2 separate regions of the Homo sapiens genome follow, and region 1 is linked to region 2. Evidence: fine-mapped expression QTL. A gene starts in region 2. The other region holds a variant in brackets. All regions are shown on one strand. Distances are between the middles of the regions.

Region 1 (5,000 bases), 48 kb before region 2:
TCCAGGAAGGGCCTGGAAAAGGCCTGGGCATGCAGAAGGCGCCTTCCGATGCTTGGCCCAGGCCAGCGGACACTCATTCTTCATCCAGCCAGCCAGCCAGCAAATGGTGCCTGGCAGAGAGAAGGCTCTGGTCACTTGAGTGAATGCGCACCTGCTCTGTGCCAGGCACCTTGCTGGGACAGGCTCCACAAGATAAGACAGACACAGTCCTGCCCTTGAGGAGTGTAGGGTGCTGGGGGGCTCAGGAGAACCCTGACACTGGTAGAGAAACCCAGGTGAGCTACACTGCAGGAAAGGGAGTACAGGCAGCCATGGAAATACAGAAGTGCCTCTGGCCTGGCCCAGAGGAGGTTGGAGGGGGGTCAGGGAGGTCTTCCTGGAGGAGGTGATATCTAAGTGAAGACTTGAAGGGCAAGGATCTGGGGAGAGTGAACAGGCAGAGAAACAGCATAAGCGAAGGCCAAGAGACCAGAAGGAGCCTAGAAGCAACAGAATCTGGCAGGGCCTAGATTGAGAAGGTCCTAGAAGGCAGGTTGGGGTAGTACAGGAGGTGGTTAGACACCAGTGGGTGGTACCCCTCCTTGCGTCTGGCTCCTGGGAGTGAGGCTGAGAAAATCTCTCCCCATGAAACTGGAGCCTGTGGCTGGCCCTGAAGAAAGGAAGGGATTGGCCACCCGAGGGGCTGAGCTCTATTCCTCACCTGCCCAGCCGCCCTATCTCGCAGCCCAGTGAGCACATCAGTGCACAGAGGCCTCCATATCATGTCCAACCTCGCATCTATTTTAAAGACTGAGAGGCCGGTCATGTTAGCTCACACCTGTAATCCTAGCACTTTGGGAGGCCGAGGCGTATGGATCACCTGAGGTCAAGAGTTCAAGACCAGCCTGGGCAACATGGCGAAACCCCGTCTCTACTAAAAATTAGTTGGGTGTGGTGGCGGGCACCCGTAATCCCAGCTACTCGGGAGGCTGAGGCGGAGAATCACTTGAACCCAAGAGGCAGAGGTTGCAGTGAGCCGAGACCGCACCACTGTACTCCAGCCTGGGTGACAGAGCGAGACTCCATCTCAAAAAAAAAAAAAAAAAAAAGACTGAGAAACTTAGATCCCAAGCAGGAAGAAGGGTTAAGGTTAGAGCCCAGCCTCCTTCATCCAGCAAAACTGTAGGGAGCACTCATTGAAAGCCAGACCTGTTGGGCACTGGTGCTCTGGAGTACAGATAGGTGCTGGCCTTGGGGAGCTGGCCATGAGTGGCAGGGAATCGTATCTACGGAGATATGGGGTAGGGGAGCATGGAAGGATATGGATGAGGAAGAGTCACTTGTCCCTAGGGGTTGGAGAAGGCTTCTTGGAAGAGGGGACTCTGCGTTGCGTCCTGGAAGATCCCAATGAGTGTGCCAGGTGGGGAAGTGGGTCGGGCAGCCTTGAGAGAGTCCTGCCTGTGCAGAGGCCCAGAGCCTGGGAAGGGTGTGGGGTCTGCTTCCAAAGCTCCTCCCACAGTGCCACATGCTTCTCTAACTTCTAGAAACTTCAGTGCCTAGCTCCCAGACCTCCTCCCCTCTTACAGAGAGGGGCCAAGGACCAAATCTCAGGCTCTCAGAACCTTTTTAGGTGTCTCCACCTCCTCTCTGAGGATTGGAGCAGGAGCTAGAAGGGACACATTTGAGCCACCATGTCCCTGGATCTGTCCCTGCCTTCAGCCAGCTCTGTCTCTGACAGCCCAGGGAGAAAAGTGCCAGACACCTCAGAAGTCCCACACCCACTGCCAGTGGCCCCTCAAGCCAGCTTGGGTCGGGGCTTGGAGGGACAGGTCGGGGGACTGGGAAATGGGACAGGGAAGGAGGTGGGACCCTCCCCATTGGCGCAACATACACATCAGGTGCTACTGAAGACCCAGATGGGGTTCATGTTTAGGTTATAATCAATAATTATGATAATAGTATCAGCTGCCACGTGTCTGGCCCACCTGGGCTGGATTGATCATCTCCAATCTCTTAGAGGAGTAAACTTGCTAGGTGAGCGATGCCGTGGCCATTTTACAGGTGAAGAAACAGAAGCTCAGAGGCTCCTGTGACTGCTTCAGAGTCACAGGAATGGGAATGGTCAGGCTAGGGGTCCACCTCAGGTCTCCCCTCTAAAGTCCTGGCCCTTTGGACTGCATCAGCAAAGGTTTGCTGACTCTGCCACTCATCCAGGGCCCCAAATTTGATTGTGACAAACTCACAGGGGCCAGACCTGCAGGAGACCTGGGTGGAAGCGACACCAACCTAGTAACCATAATAATCCAGCATTTCCCGTGAAAACCACTTTCCAGTCCTGGTCACGGTAAACACATGTATCACAAGGGTGTGAAAATGGGACTATTATGCCCACGTTCCAGATGACGCTCAGAGGTTCTATGACTTGCCCAAGGCCACATAACTGGCAGAGTGGGACCAAGCCATGATCCCAGCTGGCATTGGGGCCAGTGCTCTGTGCCACTCCCCTCCCACGCTCCCTAAGGCATGGAATGTCCCTTTCAGTGACCACACATGCCTGTCTGCTCCGGGAGCCCTCAACTCAGCCCAGAGGTGCAGGGCAGGCTGGGCCACACAGGGTCGGGGCACTGGCAGTCATGATTA[C/T]GACGGACAGCCCACTCCATGGCAGTGCCCTCAGTGGGAACCTGGTGTTTACCAGAACCCAAGTATCTGTCCTATGGAGGCTTAGCCAAGTCCTCCACCGTGGCCCTCTCCTCCCTGAGTGTCCATCTCCCCCTAGAAAAACAGCCTATTCTTCTGACCTGCCTGGCCTGCTCATTTTACTTTGGGAAGGGCTGAGATGATAGGCACAGAAGGCTTCCTGGAGGAAATGGCTCCTACCCTTGGTTTTGAAGGATGAGTAGTTTTCTGGTTCCATCCGGAACTGTCCCTGTTTCAGAGATGAGATGACTGAGGCCCTGACAGAGGTCCAGCTTGCCCAAGACTGCACAGTAGGTCAGTGGCAGAGCCTGGCCTCCTAAGCTCTTTCCCCCAACTGGTGGCCTAGCCCATGTCTGTTCCCTGGCCTCAGTTTACCCAGCTACCAAATGGGGATGACTCAGGGCACACCTCCACCCCAAAATGAATAGAAAAAGAAGCAGCCTTTCTATGAAGCATTCACTGCATCTAAACACTTCCTAAAGGAGGTGGGTGTGGTTATCCCCACCTGACAAAGCAGGAAGCAGAGGCCCTGAGTGCTCTCCTTGGGCTGGGGGGCTGGTAAGTCCTGGCGTGAGGCACCAACCAATCTGCAGACCCCCTTTCCCACAGCTCTGCAGCCAGATACCAGGGTGGATTATACCTGGCAGAGCGTGCCCGGTTCTGCCACCCCCTAGAGGGCCAAGGGGAGGTGGGCACCTCACATGAACCCCTCTAATGTGGCCTCTCTCCTTCTTCCCTCCGGCAGAACCAGAGCTGGGGTCTGGGGCGGGCCCTGCCGGCACAGGCACCCCCAGCCTCCTTCGGGGCAAGAGGGGCGGACATGCAACCAACTACCGGATCGTGGCCCCCAGGAGCCGGGACGAGAGAGGCTGAGGGTGGTGGCGGCCCCTGAGGCAGACCAGGCCAGGCTTCCCCTCCTACCTGGACTCGGCCAGCTGCCTCCAGGGACCGCCCGTCCATATTTATTAATGTCCTCAGGGTCCCTTCTGCCATCTAGGCCTTAGGGGTAAGCAGGTCTCAGTCCTGGCACCATGCACATGTCTGAGGCTGAGCAAGGGCTGAGAGGAGAGGCTTGGGCCTCAGTTTCCCTCTGTGAAGTGGGGGGAGGCAGGCCTTCAAGGAGGGATAGAGGTACAAGGCTTCGTCTCATCTGCTGTCTGAGCATCCAGGCCCAAAGGCACTGAGGGAGTCAGGAGCTGGGGCTCGGCACATGCAGAGATGACAGGGCAGGGGGCAGTCTTCCTCCCCCTCCCCGACCAAACCTCGGGGAGCCCTCCTGTGCCCCTCCCTCCTTGTTGTCCAGTGCTGGGCTCCCCACCCCGAGGTCAGGCTGCCCAATCCTCTGACTGGATCACCGGGGGCTTCTTGCCTCAGTTCTTCCCTCTGAGCCCCCAGGCCCTCCCGCATCTCAGGTTGGGGATGGGGACATGGAGAGGAAGGGGCCGCCTACTCCTGCAAATGCTTGTGACAGATGCCAGGAGGTAGATGTGTGCTGGCCAATAAAGGCCCCTACCTGATTCCCCGCAGCTTGGTCTCAGTGTGTGCTTAGATGGGGGCAGCTGGGAATGAGGCTACGACGGAGAGGGCTAGAAATGGGCGGTGGAGAATGCTCTGTGCTGGAGGACAGAGCCTCCTGGAGGTATAGGCTGCAAGGTGCAGGGCCAGGAAGCCTGTGTCTCTGGACATCAGGGAACAGCTCTCCCACAACTGGTCATTCATTTGGTGCTCACTCATTCATTCATCCCCCTGATGCCAACACAGAAGAGTCAAACACAACTGCTGCCTCCAAGGAGGTCCAGGTTGAAAAACAAACTGGTTTTTATTCTAAACACGTACTAGGGCAGCATGCTGGGGGGCCTCTCCTGCCTCCAGAGGTGCCCCTGCTCCCCACTGTGGCCCTCTTTAGACAGAGTAGGAGCTCGGGCTACCCACATGCAGCCCAGCCCTTAGCACCCAAGGGCCTGCCTGTGCCCCACTCTCTGCCTGGGCTAGGGAGGCCCAGGACCCTCGGAGTGGGCAGGCCCACCCTTTCCATGGGTCACCAGGGTCTCAGTGCCCACTTGTCCTCCAACCAACAGTGACACGGCACCCTCCACACGGCCTGTGGCTGCCAGTGCCACCACCGCCTGCTCCGTAGGGAAGCCCATGCGCTCCAGCTGCTGCAGCCTGTTGGGGGTGGGGGGAGAAGTGGGGAGTGTCAGGGCCACCCCGGCCCCTATACCAGGGGACCCCACCTCTGCCCACCCCACCTTACCGCAGAGAGGAGACAGAGGACTTGGACAGCCATGGTGCGCTCTGGGGTTCCTGGGCTGGCCCGTCAAGAA
Region 2 (5,000 bases):
CTCTTATCACAAGCCACAGCTCATGGGAGAGAAGGAGGAAGGAATCTCGTGTGTGTGTGTGTGTGTGTGTGTGTGTGTGTGTGTGTGTGTGTGTGACGGAGTCTCGCTCTGTCGCCCAGACTGGAGTGCAGTGGCGCAATCTCTGATCTCTGCTCACTGCAAGCTCCGCCTCTCGGGCTCACGCCATTCTCCTGCCTCAGCCTCCAGAGTAGCTGGGACTACAGGCACCCGCCACCACACCCAGAGAATTTTTTGTATTTTTAGTGGAGACGGGGTTTCACCGTGTTAACCAGGATGGTCTCGATCTCCCGACCTCATGATCCACCCGCCTCGGCCTCCCAAAGTGCCGGGATTACAGGCGTGAGCTACTGCGCCCAGCAGAAGGAATTTCTTTATAATCCCTCCTCCCCAGAGAAGTGGATATGCTGAGCCAGGCCACACTGAGCTGGGTAGTGGCATTATTTTTCACAACCCCATGATGTAACTACTACTACTGTCCCATTCTGCAGATGGTGCCACTGAGGCTCAGGGAGCTTCACCATCCCACCCAATGACCAATGACAGAGCCTGGGTTCCGTCCAACTTCACCCATGTCCAAAACCCCAAAATGCAGCAAGGTAGGTATAAGCAGGAGTCAAATTCCTGCACAGCTGCTGGCTACACATATCCCATGCCTTCTCTGGGCCTCAGTTTCCCCAAATTGTAAAATGAGAACACCTAAGAGTATCATAGCTCATCGGGGTATTTTGAAGATGAAACTGTTAAATGTCCACACCCTGATTCACCCCCACCCCAAACCTGCAACCCTCCTCCACCTCCAGCAGCCCTTCCCTCCCCAGGTGTTAGCACCTCCGCCCTCCCAGTGCTCAGCCCTGGGAGTTGTCCTGGATTCCGTCCTCACACTCAACCAATCCACCAGCACATCAGCTCTCCCCTCACAATATGGCCAGAATCCAGCGCCCTCTCACCACCTGGTTTCCTCTGAGGCTCCAGCTCCTGCCCTGGCCCACCACAGCAGCCCCAGGGAATGTTTTTTTTTTTTTGAGACGGAGTCTCGCTCTGTCGCCCAGGCTGGAGTGCAGTGGCACGATCTGGGCTCACTGCAAGCTCCGCCTCCCAGGTTCACACCATTCTCCTTCTCCTGCCTCAGCCTGCCAAGTAGCTGGGACTACAGGTGCCCGCCACCACGCCTGGCTAATTTTTTTGTATTTTTTTAGTAGAGACAGGGTTTCACCATGTTAGCCAGGATGGTCTCGATTTCCCGATCTCGTGATCCGCACGCCTCGGCCTCTCAAAGTGCTGGGATTACAGGCGTGAGCCGCCGCGCCCGGCCGGGAATGTTAAGACCTAAGCCAACCACCCCTGCTCTAAATCACTGCATGGCTCCCATGTCCCTCAAAAGAGACACGGCCCCCAAGGCCCTGCTTAACCGGCCCTGGGGTCTCTCTAATCTCTCTACCTCCTCCCTCACCCACCTCCCTGCACTCCAGCCTCAGCCACCTCCCCAGTCTTCTTGAGCACGCCGGACACATGCCCACCATGGGGCCTTTGCACTGGCCGTTCCCTCTCCCTCTCCAGATATCCCCGACCTTCCTCCCTCACTTCCTTTCCTGATGAGGGATTTTAAATTGCAGCCCCCTCACACCCACACCCTCACCCGGCTCCATCCCTGTCTTCTCTGCACCTCATCCCTGTCTCTGCCCTGGGGCTGCCTCCCTGCCAGACTTGGACAACAGGCCCTGAGAGCTGGCTCTGCTTGGTTCCCTGCTGTTTTGCTGTTGATTTCCAGTGCCCAAAGAGACCCAGCACACAGTAGGTGCCACGCAGGTGTCAGCCTTGAGGATTGCTAGTTACTGCCTTCCTCACTGGAGGAAGTGCCATGGGGGGCGCTGAGGTGAGAAAACGCCTTTGAAAAGGTCACACAGGCCAGGCAAGTGGCTCACACCTGTAATCCCAGCCCTTTGGGAGGTGGAGGCGGGCAGATCACCTTAGGTCAGGAGTTCGAGACCAACCTGGCCAACATGGTGAACTTGTCTCTACTAAAAATACAAAAAGCCGGGCGTGGTGGCAGGTATCAGTAATCCCAGCTACTCGGGAGGCTGAGGCAGGAGAATCGCTTGAACCCCGGAGGTAGAGGTTGCAATGAGCCCAGATCCAGCCACTGTACTCCAGCCTGAGCGACAGAGCGAGACAAAAAAAAAAAAAAAAAAAAAAAGGAAGAAAATAAAAAAGAAAAGGTCACAAGGACTCTCTGGGATGCCTGTGAATGCCTGGCACCAAGAGGCCTGGCTCACAGGTGCTCAACCAATGCTGCTGATCCGTGGATGAGGGCGTCCCCATAATCGTCATGTTCAAATCCTGGCTCCACCAGCTGCTCTCCTGACTGTGCCCCAGTTGGGCATGAGTGTCCTTCACAGAGGTGACACACCAGTTCATTCAGGTCAAGGGCGCAGAGCAGTCCTGGCAGCACACAGTAGGAGATTTATTGGAGCTCTGAGCCTGGCTGTGGTTGGCGGCTTCCCTGCAGGCCTGCCCCACCCGTGTAGCATGGCTGCCGCCCAGACCCGCCCGACGTCCCGCCCAGCCCAGCCGGCAGCAGCAGGGGGCAGGATTTCCCGCTGATCCCGGCGGTCCGTCCTCTGCAGTTTAAAAAGAGCCCAGCGGGGCTTAACCCTCCCGCGTCCGGCCGGCCTCCGATGCCCCCCGTCCCCTGTTCTGTGCGGAACTCCGGCTTTGGCCATCTGCCTACTTCTCTGAGCTTCAGTATCCTCATCTGTAAAACCGGTTCCCCTCATTTCAGGGTCAAAAATGAGCATTCAGTGAGCACAAGGAGCCCTCAGTCGCCAGGGGCATCCTCCCCCTCCCCGCGGCGGTGCCGTTTATCTGGCCAGGGGAGGTCCACCCGGGAGGAGGTGACTTTGCAGCCTCCAGCCGCTATCGCTTCCTGCCTTCATCTTGGGAACAGGCCGTGCTGTGCGCCAGCCCGGGGAGCCCACCGTCTGGGGAGGGGGGCGATTAAAAGGTCCCAACCTCCTCCCCAGGAGACCAAAGAGGTTGGACGGGGCCCCGGGTACTAGGCTGGGTGGGGGTTGGGCGCCTGGGCCGGTCGCAGTTGTCTGGGGGCCCTGGGGCTCTCTGCGTCGAGAGCGCTCGAAGACCCGGGATTCCTGGCCCGATCGCGGGCGGGGGGAGACCCCAGCTCCACCCCAGCTCCCGCCGGCTCGGGGAAGGGGCGGCCCCTTTAAGAGCGCGCGGCCCCGCCCGCCCCCTCCGGGCAGGATCCGAATTCCAGGGAGGCGGGGCGGAGACGGCGGCGAGGAGGAGGCCGCGGCGCGGGACGCATAGAGCTGCGGCTCGGGCGGCGCCTCCCTGCGGCGGCCCGGCCCGGCTCCGGCCCCCGCTGGGGCAATGCTCCCCGGGGCCGCGGGATGAGCCAGGTGAGCGCGGAGACCCCCAGCACTCCCTGCCTGGTGCGCATGGACGGGGGTGGGGAGGCGGGGCGGGAAGCGGCGTCCTCGGCCTCTGTTCCCCGGGGCTGTGTGACCTTGGGCGGCCCCGCACCCTCTCTGGGCCCAGAGCCCCAGCACCGGCAGGGCCTGCGGAGGCCGCTCTGAGTCCTGGCCCCGCAGGCACCGGCCTGGAGCGCTGGGGAGGCTTCTTGGAGGAGGCGGGGCCTGGCCCTGGCCCCGGATCGCCGAGACCGGCCACGCTGCGCCGCCTGGACGCCGGGCTCCTCCACCCACAGCTCTGCGACCTTCACGAGCTCGACCCTTTCTGCGCCTCAGTTTCCTCATCTATAAAATGGAGATAATGCCTCCGCGCGCTGAGCCCGAGCGCGGTCGTGCTGTTACACTATTGCTGCTGCTATGTCGTTAATGACGGCACAGCCCTTATGGAAGGGGGGCCAAGGAAGGCACGGGGACCTTCCCGCAGGACATGGGGTGGGCACCAGCCCTAAGCCATGCACATAACCCACTCTGAGGTCAGGACCTGGGTTCCTTTCGTGTCCACTGGGGGCCTTAGCCGTTGTCTTCACTTCTCTAGGTCCCAGCCCTTCACAATGGGCGCGCCTCCCTGCCTGAGAGGGAGGCCCCAGCCAAGCCCCAGTTTCCACCGCAAAAAGCCACACAGCAAACACTTAATGGACCCTAAATTTATAAAAATTATCCCATAGAGTCCTATGAGGCAGGGAATGTTACTGTACCCATTTCGCAGATGAGGAAACTTGGGGCACCGACATTTCCCAGAGCCAACATGTAAACCAGGCATTTGGCCTGAGTGACAGACTGGTGCAGGTGGCCAGCAGCTTAATTTGTACTGAGCGCTTACTGGGTCCCCACAGCGATCCTGAACTGTGTTCCTGCCCACAGTGACTCGGCCGGTCCGGGCATGGCAGACCCAGTGGCGGGCATCGCGGGCTCGGCGGCCAAGAGCGTGCGGCCATTTCGCTCCAGTGAGGCCTACGTGGAGGCCATGAAGGAGGACCTGGCCGAGTGGCTCAATGCCTTGTACGGCCTGGGTCTCCCGGGTGGTGGCGATGGCTTCCTGACAGGGCTGGCCACGGGCACGACCCTGTGCCAACATGCCAACGCCGTGACCGAGGCTGCCCGTGCATTGGCAGCCGCCCGCCCGGCCCGAGGTGTGGCCTTCCAGGCGCACAGTGTAGTGCCTGGCTCCTTCATGGCGCGCGACAACGTGGCCACCTTCATCGGCTGGTGCCGCGTGGAGCTGGGTGTGCCGGAGGTGCTCATGTTTGAGACTGAGGACCTGGTGCTGCGCAAGAACGAGAAGAGCGTGGTGCTGTGCCTGCTGGAGGTGGCGCGGCGTGGGGCACGCCTGGGCCTGCTGGCCCCACGCCTCGTGCAGTTTGAGCAGGAGATTGAGCGGGAGCTGCGTGCTGCACCCCCAGCCCCCAACGCCCCTGCCGCTGGGGAGGACACCACTGAAACCGCCCCCGCACCAGGGACTCCTGCCCGCGGCCCCCGCATGACACCCAGCGA

Direction of the effects. Alleles are on the strand shown, and positions count from the first base shown. SD is a standard deviation of normalised expression in the study named.
For the expression in anterior cingulate cortex of the gene that starts at base 2,934 in region 2, C is the high allele of the variant in region 1 and T is the other (small effect, 0.33 SD a copy in GTEx).

What was found. PIP is the estimated chance that this variant, and not a neighbour inherited with it, causes the effect.
Region 1: its variant is the best candidate, but not a certain one, in a credible set for the expression of GAS2L1 in anterior cingulate cortex (GTEx, PIP 0.62).

The regions. Positions count from the first base shown.
Region 1 is chr22:29,255,396-29,260,395 of GRCh38, forward strand. It overlaps EMID1 (EMI domain containing 1), which reads left to right. Exons shown (of 15, transcript NM_133455.4): 15 at 3,422-4,202. The coding sequence ends at 3,549. RHBDD3 (rhomboid domain containing 3) reads right to left here. Exons shown (of 7, transcript NM_012265.3): 6 at 4,931-5,000; 7 at 4,477-4,842. The coding sequence ends at 4,665. Among named protein-coding and RNA genes, the nearest start is that of RHBDD3, 10 kb to the right of the region's middle. RefSeq lists an enhancer at 4,201-5,000. The variant C/T (reference allele first, on the strand shown) is at 2,620.
Region 2 is chr22:29,303,717-29,308,716 of GRCh38, forward strand. GAS2L1 (growth arrest specific 2 like 1) reads left to right here and starts at 2,934. Exons shown (of 6, transcript NM_001362985.3): 1 at 2,934-3,437; 2 at 4,371-5,000. The coding sequence starts at 4,390. RefSeq lists enhancers at 1,941-2,686, 2,291-2,340, 2,687-3,430 and silencers at 3,101-3,370, 3,391-3,440, 3,531-3,670.